Linked DNA regions of Homo sapiens. Changing the gene in region 2 together with the main gene of any one other region gives a genetic interaction. Each region holds a gene or a part of one and is shown on either strand. Other genes may lie near its edges.

Evidence for each region.
Region 1: changes in GTPBP4 (region 2) and RPP30 together harm fitness more than expected from each alone (negative genetic interaction), as found in Homo sapiens cells (one large-scale study listed by BioGRID).

What each region holds. Positions count from the first base shown.
Region 1 is NC_000010.11:90,885,396-90,889,210, reverse strand, and holds part of RPP30 (ribonuclease P protein subunit p30), read right to left. Parts: intron 3,400-3,815; coding exon 3,310-3,399; intron 1-3,309. UniProt on the Homo sapiens protein: Component of ribonuclease P, a ribonucleoprotein complex that generates mature tRNA molecules by cleaving their 5'-ends. Also a component of the MRP ribonuclease complex, which cleaves pre-rRNA sequences.
Region 2 is NC_000010.11:1,001,879-1,005,693, reverse strand, and holds part of GTPBP4 (GTP-binding protein 4), read right to left. Parts: intron 1-3,815. UniProt on the Homo sapiens protein: Involved in the biogenesis of the 60S ribosomal subunit. Acts as a TP53 repressor, preventing TP53 stabilization and cell cycle arrest.

The DNA.
Region 1 (3,815 bases), about 90 Mb from region 2:
CCAAGACTGTGCTCTCACAATGTATACATTTCCATACTTTATGTAGACAAACAGCTCCACAGCCAGACTGGATATTATGTTACAAATAATACATACATACCTATGCCACAACTATTATTTACTCTGAACAACAAGCTAGACACCTGTATGTTTCCAACTTTCTCTCTTTAATAAAAAATAGGTGAATAAATTAACAGGGACTCTTCTGCTTCCTGACCAATTCACAGTGCAGCCTACTCTTCTACTAGATGAAGACTAAAAATAATCTTGTGCAGCCTTTCTTTCCACTCCATCATCTAGTTTTTATTAAACAACATATGCAAAATGTTCACACCAGATTTTTTTTAAAGCAGACACCATGTTAAACTGCATATCCCTCTCACTTGACAGAATTTTTTACTTTTCAGAATTCTTAAATTGAAAAATGTAGGAATTAAGCGAAAAATGCCCATCAAACGAAAGGAGCTTTCCTGAACTTCCCAATGGAATCAGGGGGTGGGGTGTCCTGGTGTCAACTGTCTTGAGTGCCACTGTCCTCCTCATGTTGCCCCACTGCCCCACTTCCCTCACGGCATATACTTCCTGATGAATGTGGACATCCAGCTGGTGACTAACAACGAGCAGAATTTGGCCAGGTCCCCTATGCTGTACCCTGATATGCTAAGTTCAACATGTACTTATTGACTCAACAAACTGTAAGGAGGACTCATTATACGCAAGATAGTGGAGTACTTAAAAAAGGACCATGACAGCCGGTGTTCTCTAGGAGCTCACACTCTGGTTTAAATAATAATACAAGTTCCTAAGAACCCCAATTAAAAGCTCTCACCAAAGCAGCCACTGGGAATCTTACCACTGTCGTGAGACATGAGGAATTATCTGTTGTGCATTGCTGTCCATTCCATGGACTTGGCCTTAACATCACATGCTAGCTCCTCCCATCAAAGGTCACAGTATCGTATGTGGGCTTATTCAGGCAAAGCCATCTAGAAAATGACCTTCCTAGTTCATTAAGATGAAGAAAAAGGTGAAAAAGTTGCAAGTTCACTAGCAATTTGCTGAGTAGCTATAGTGCCCAACTCTGGGGGTGCTACTTCCACAGAAACTGTATTGGCAGTTTGAGGCTGGTAAAAAGGTTAGGCAAACTTCTAAAGACAGAGATTGCTACCTCTGGAGAGAAACAATATGTGAGGCCAACAAGACTGCCATAACCTTGAGTACTGTATTAATTTGTGGCTTTTATCATAGGTACCTGGGGCACATCAGAGATCTTGACAGACAACCAATCAGAACTTTCCTAACCCTGTGTGACTACAGAACTGAATGACTTCTTGTAGTTTTTCATTTCCCCACATTTGACAAATGAACTGTTGCACAACATAGATTTCCAACTCGAAAATGTGGTGATTCAGTGGTTTTTCACTGTTTACTTATTTATTTATAAGTACTGGCAATAACACAAGGAACCAATGATTTGAGCTCAGCCAATATTGTTATGTTCACTAGTACTGTCAATATTTACCCTAGGCCGGGTGTGGTGGCTCACGCCTGTAATCCCAGCATTTGGCGAGGCTGAGGCGGGCGGATCACAAGGTCAGGAATTTGAGACCAGCCTGGCCAACATGGTAAAACCCCATCTCTACTAAAAAGAAATACAAAAATTAGCCGGACATGGTGGTGTGCACCTGTAATCCCAGCTACTCAGGAGGCTGGGGCAGGAGAATTGCTTGAACCAGGGAGGTGGAGGTGGAAGTGAGCCGAGATCGTGCCACTGTACTCCAGCCTGGGTGACAGCAAGACTCCGTCTCAAAAAAAAAAAAAAAATTTACCCAACAAGAGCTTTTATGTTTTTCCCTTGAAATATATGATGATATATTTTTAGTTTGAGTAGCATATTTTTAGGGGTAGAACATAAGCTAACTTAAACTTTTCCCCATTGGGTGGGTCAGGCATGGTGGCTCATGCCTGTAAGCTGAGCACTTTGGGAGGCTGAGGTGGGAGGATTGCTTGAGCCCAGGAGTTTGAGACCAGCCTGGGAAACATGGTGAGACCTCAACTTTACAAAACATAAAAAAATTAGCCAGGTGTGGTGGCATGCACCTGTAGTCCCAATTGCTCAGGAGGCTGAGGTAGGAGGATCACTTGATCCCAGGAAGTTGAGGCTGCAGTGAGCTATGATCATGCCACTGCACTCTAGCTTGGGCAATAGAGTGACACCCTGTCTCTACTACTACTACTACTACTACTAATAATTTTTGCCACACTGAATTTTCACATACTAATTTTCCATTTTCTCCTCTTACTGTCTCCCTCTAATTCTCAAGCCAATTCCTTAGCACCAAAGAGAATTAAAATTGAGAAAGTTATGATTCTACAGAGGCAAAAGAGCAAGGGAATTATCCTTTGAAAAACTTAAAAAAAATTAATCTTCTGATTCTGACAGGATTGGATATGTAATTTTGACTGTATTTGCTAAACTCTTTTTTTTCTCCTTGGATACCAGTTTTTGAGAACAGGAGACTAGGGTTTTGGAAGCCACTACTCTAAAATAGCATCTGAACTCCTCCTAGGATCTGACTGGCAAAGCAAATAGTTAACAGCTGTGCTGACCTTTTGCTACTAAAATAGTTACTGGTGTGAAATAATATTACCTTATGATGGAAATGGGAGGAAATTAAGACAGAAGAAGGAATGGACAGATAGAAGATGAAGGGTATGGGAAAACAAGAGAAAACTATGTAGAAGGGGAATGAGAAAAATTCTATAGCAGAGGGAGAAACAAAAAAGTTTTCTGAACACATGGCCATCCTATTAGGTTCATATAAAAGTAACTCTGGGCTCTTTGTGAATAAGCATGCTTCAACACAGATTTTAATTTTGCATAGACCACGTCTATGTGATGCCATGCCCTGTTCCCTCTTGACTCTCTTTAGCTTCCTGGTGCCTCAAGGATCCTCTGCTTTTTATTTTTTCCCTTCCTCTTCTTTTTTGACTGCTCTGTTCCCTTAATAATTGATGTTCAGGTTATAAGTACCCATGATTATTAGCTATCCTCTTAAGAAATATCCTTTATAAATTTTGGGTTCTATGGCCTTTTAAAAACATCTTAATAATTAACTGGATATTTTTAATTTTAAGCTTTCTTTCTCCCTTTGTTCAGCTTTCAAAACGAAAATTCTCTTTTCTAAAACTGCCTCCTATTCCCTAGCCTTTGTTTTTCCTTCTAAGAACACTGATTTCTTCTGCTTCTTTTCCAATTTGCTAATGTAAGTTTCTAAGATTCAAATACAGAATGGAAAGTACACTTACCACATTAATAGGAGGTCTTTTGAAGTAAAATGGTAGTTTCTCTGTTACAGTTATGCAGACTAAATCCACATCTAAATGTGTGCAAGCAATCTGTAAAGAAGAAAAAAATAGGTAAGGCCAAAAGGAAAATTGGCACAAGTAAGAATGGGAGATAGGGTCAAACTCGATATAAAGTATGGTTCACTCCATAGGTGTTTTGATGGTTCTGTGTTGAAATACATCTGACCTTTTACAAAGTCAACTGTTTTGCTACTCTTTTAGGTTTGGTTTAAATGGTTTAACTGTAATCCAGCAAAAGCGGAATATGTCCACAGACTTTCTCAAAAGATAGGGCCTGGAGACTCTCTAACTCATATGGTCTTCTACATAAGGATGGGTTGCAGAGCGAGGCTCAGTTTCTGGAAGGTTACTTCAGACTGTCCCAGAAAGAAGAAACTGACTATTCTAAAACCCAAGGAAAAAATAAGCCAAATGGAATGTATGCATAGTCCATTTATCCCACACAC
Region 2 (3,815 bases):
AAACAGACATATCCTAAAAACAGTTATTTTCTTCATATTCTTCTATGATCAAGAAAACACAAATGACATCAAAAAGATGGCCGACTAGTAGCCCCTCACATCTGTCCCCCACAACAAAGGCAATCAGAATAACGAACAACTACATGTTAATAACTGAGGGGGAGCTCCAGAGGGCATCACAGGAGTAACAGGCACCCTGGGGAGCAGAAAAACGCAAGACGATGAAATACAGCCCAAAGAAAACACCAGGGGCCAGGCGCGGTGGCTCATGCCTGTAATCCCAGCCTTTGGGAGGCCGAGGCGGGTGGATCATGAGGTCAGGAGGTCAAGGTCACCCTGGCTAACATGGTGAAACCCTGTCTCTGCTAAAAATATAAAAAATTAGCCAGGCGTGGTGGCGGCCGCCTGTAGTCCCAGCTACTCGGGAGGCTGAGGCAGGAGAATGGTGTGAACCTGGGAGGTGGAGCTTGCATTGAGCAGAGATCACGCCACTGCACTCCAGCCTGGGGGACAGAGCGAGACTCCGTCTTAAAACAAACAAACAAACAAACAAACCAAAAAAAACACACTGGGCCGCCAGCAACCCACCCTACAGCTGGGATGCAACGGGACCCAGGAGGAGGTTCTCCCTACGGTGAGGGGGTAAGCAAGAGGATGGCAGCAGCCCTGCCACCACTCTGGACACCCACAGCCCTCACCACCGGAGCCCCCTGGCATCCTCACAGCTGTGCTCCCACACAGAAGGAGCTGACACTGGGCCCTGTCTGTTGGGCCCATGGGGCGGCTATACTCCATCATCTTGGGACTGGAACTGCGGCTGGAGTATGTCTTGCTCAGGGGAAGTGGCCACAGCTCCCCTTCATCCCTGAGGCTAAACTGCCTCCAAACTACCCAAACCTGGTGGCCCAACATCCCCAAGCCAGCTGTGAGCAGCTGCTACCCCTTCCCAGCAGGGCTTGGTGGAGGTGGAGCCCCTCTACTAGCCCTTGCTCTAGCACCCAACGGTACCCTGCCTCCTGGTAAATAGCACCGTGGCCTCTCAGGGAACGTTGTCTCCCTGCTGCCTGAGCTGAAGCAGTGCCCTGCTTCCTGGGAAATGCCCAGAATGGTCACATATCCCAGCGTCTATGCTGAAGAGGTACCTTGTATCCCAGGGCAACGGTGCCTGGGGCGCCCAGAAGAGTCACAACCCTCAGGCCCAGGCTGACCAGCCACATACCATGGGGAGGAGCTGACATTGTACTCCACACCCCAGGGAAACAGGGCAGGGGCTGAGCCGAGGCACCTGCCCCACCACGCAAACAGCTCCAGCACCTGCTCCCTGGAGCTGGACTAACCCTATATTCTGAGCTGCAGAGTCACCACTCTTTCCAGGAAATGGAGTCACTGCTGTCCTCCTCCCTGTCCTCTAGGGCCCAAATGACAGCTGGACTAGTCCATTCTGGGGTCCTTGCTGCCACCTCACCTAGCATCAGAGAGTCTGGGATACTGCTGGGCCCCACCATCCCAGGGTCCAGAGTTCCCCTTGAGCTGACACTAAGCCCTCCCTACTGGCTCAGGTTTCTGAAGTACAGCTCTACCCTGCTTCCCAGGCTCAAACCTCCAGAGTGCGTCTTCCCTGGAGTCAGGCCAGGACTGTGCCCTGACCCCACGGGTGGAGCCACAGCCACAGCCTTGCCCTGTGGGCTTAAGCTGCTAGGGGTGCTTCAGGATCAGAGATCCACCACAGAGAGTAAACCTGCACCCCAAGGCCAGGCCATGATAGGCACACAAGACCCTAAGGCTAGGACCCCAGTCCCACAGCTACCCTGAGTACCTGTAGCTGAAACCCAGCACTGTGGCAGCTGCTTGCAGACCATGTCAGACCTGACACCAAGAAAGATCCCCTCAGATAAGTCCCCCATTGCGGGAAAAACAAGAATAGCAGGACCCCAAAAGCCCCTGACACCAAGGACCTTAAAAACATACACCACCGCTGGCACAAACTTCCAGAGCTGAGGCCACTGAGCCACCCAGTTATTGCCAACATTTCATGGAGGTGAGGAAGCTGCACAGAAACAATGTCACTGCTCCTATCCAGAAAGTCACGGTTCTCTTCCCAAATGGCACAGTAAAACCCAAGTGAGGTGAAAACCTCTCCATGAAAGCCACTCTAGAAGAAAGTATAAAAGAGGCTCCTGTTCTACCAGATGCAGAGACATCAATGCAGGGACACAAGAAACATGAAAAAGCAAGGAAATAAGAAATCATGAAAGGAATATTAACTCTCTAGGAACAGACTCTAATGAAAAGGAAATCAATGAATTGCCAGAAAGAGAATTCAAAATAATAATTTTTTTGAAGGAAACTCAATGAGAAACAAAATACAGATAGATAATTCAACAAAATCAAGAAAACAATTTCATGATATGAACAAGAACTTAAACTGAGACAGAAATTGTAAAAAAGAGTCAAACAGAAATCCTGTAGCTGAAGAATTCAATGGATGAGATAATACAATAGACAGTTTTAACAGCACACTGGATGAAGCAGAAAAAAAATCTCTGTCATTTGAAACTACCTAGTCAGAGAGAAAAAAAGCAGGAAGAACGAAAAAGAATGAAGGAAGCCTATAAGATTTATGGGACAACATTAAGTGAATACATGCTGGCATTATGGGAGTTCAAGAAGGAGAAGAGAAGGGAAAAGGCTTAGTAACCTATTTAATGAGATAGCTGAAAACTTTCCAAGACTGGGGAGAGGTATAGACATCTAAAACCAGGAAGTTCAAGAATTCCCAAATAGAGTCAGCCCAGAAAGGTCTTCCCCAAGGCACATTATAGTCAAACTGTCAAAAGTCAAATATAAAGGAAATTCTAAAAACAGCTAGAGAAAAGCTTGAAGTCACATATAAGAAAATCCCCATTAGACTAACAGCAGATTTCTTTGCAGAAACCTTGCACGCCAGGAGACAATGGGATGATATATATTCAAAGTGTTGAAGAAAAAAAAGAAGACTGCCAGCCAACTATATTACATCCAGCAAAGCTATCCTTCAGAAATAAGGGAGAAATAAATTCTTTCCGAGAAAAGCAAAAACAGAGAATTCGTCACTACTAGACCAGCCTTACAAGATATACTTAAGAAAGTCCTACATCTGGAAGCGAAGACAATAATCACTATCATGAAAACATGAAAAAGTATCCAAGAAATTCACTTAACCTGTAAAGACATTAAGACACACATAGACTGAAAATGAAGAGATGCAAAAAGATATTCTACGCAGATGGAAACTAAAAGCAAGTAGGAATAGCTATACTTCTATCAGATAAAGCAGATTTTAAGTCAAAAACAATAAAAAGAGACAAGAAGGTCATTATATAATAATAAAAGGGGTCAATAATATTTGGGGACATCAACATCAGACTCGCAACATTAGACAGATCCTAGGCAAAAAAGAATCAACAAATACTGGATTTAAAGTGCACTGTAGGCCAGGCGCAGTGGCTCACGCCTATAATCCCAACACTCTGGGAGGCCAAGGTGGGCGGATCACTTGAGGTCATAAATTCAAGACCAGCCTGGCCGGTATGGTAAAACCCTCTCTACTAAAAATACAAAAAATTAGCTCGGTGTGGTGGCGCACGCCTGTAATCCCAGCTACTCAGGAGGCTGAGGCAGGAGAATCACTTGAACCTCAGAGGTGGAGGCTGCACTGAGCCGAGACCGTGCCACTGCACTCCAGCCTCAGTGACAGAGCGAGACTCCATCTCAAAAAAAAAACAAAAATAAAATAAAAAAAAAAGTGCACTGTAGACCAAACATCTACAGAACAT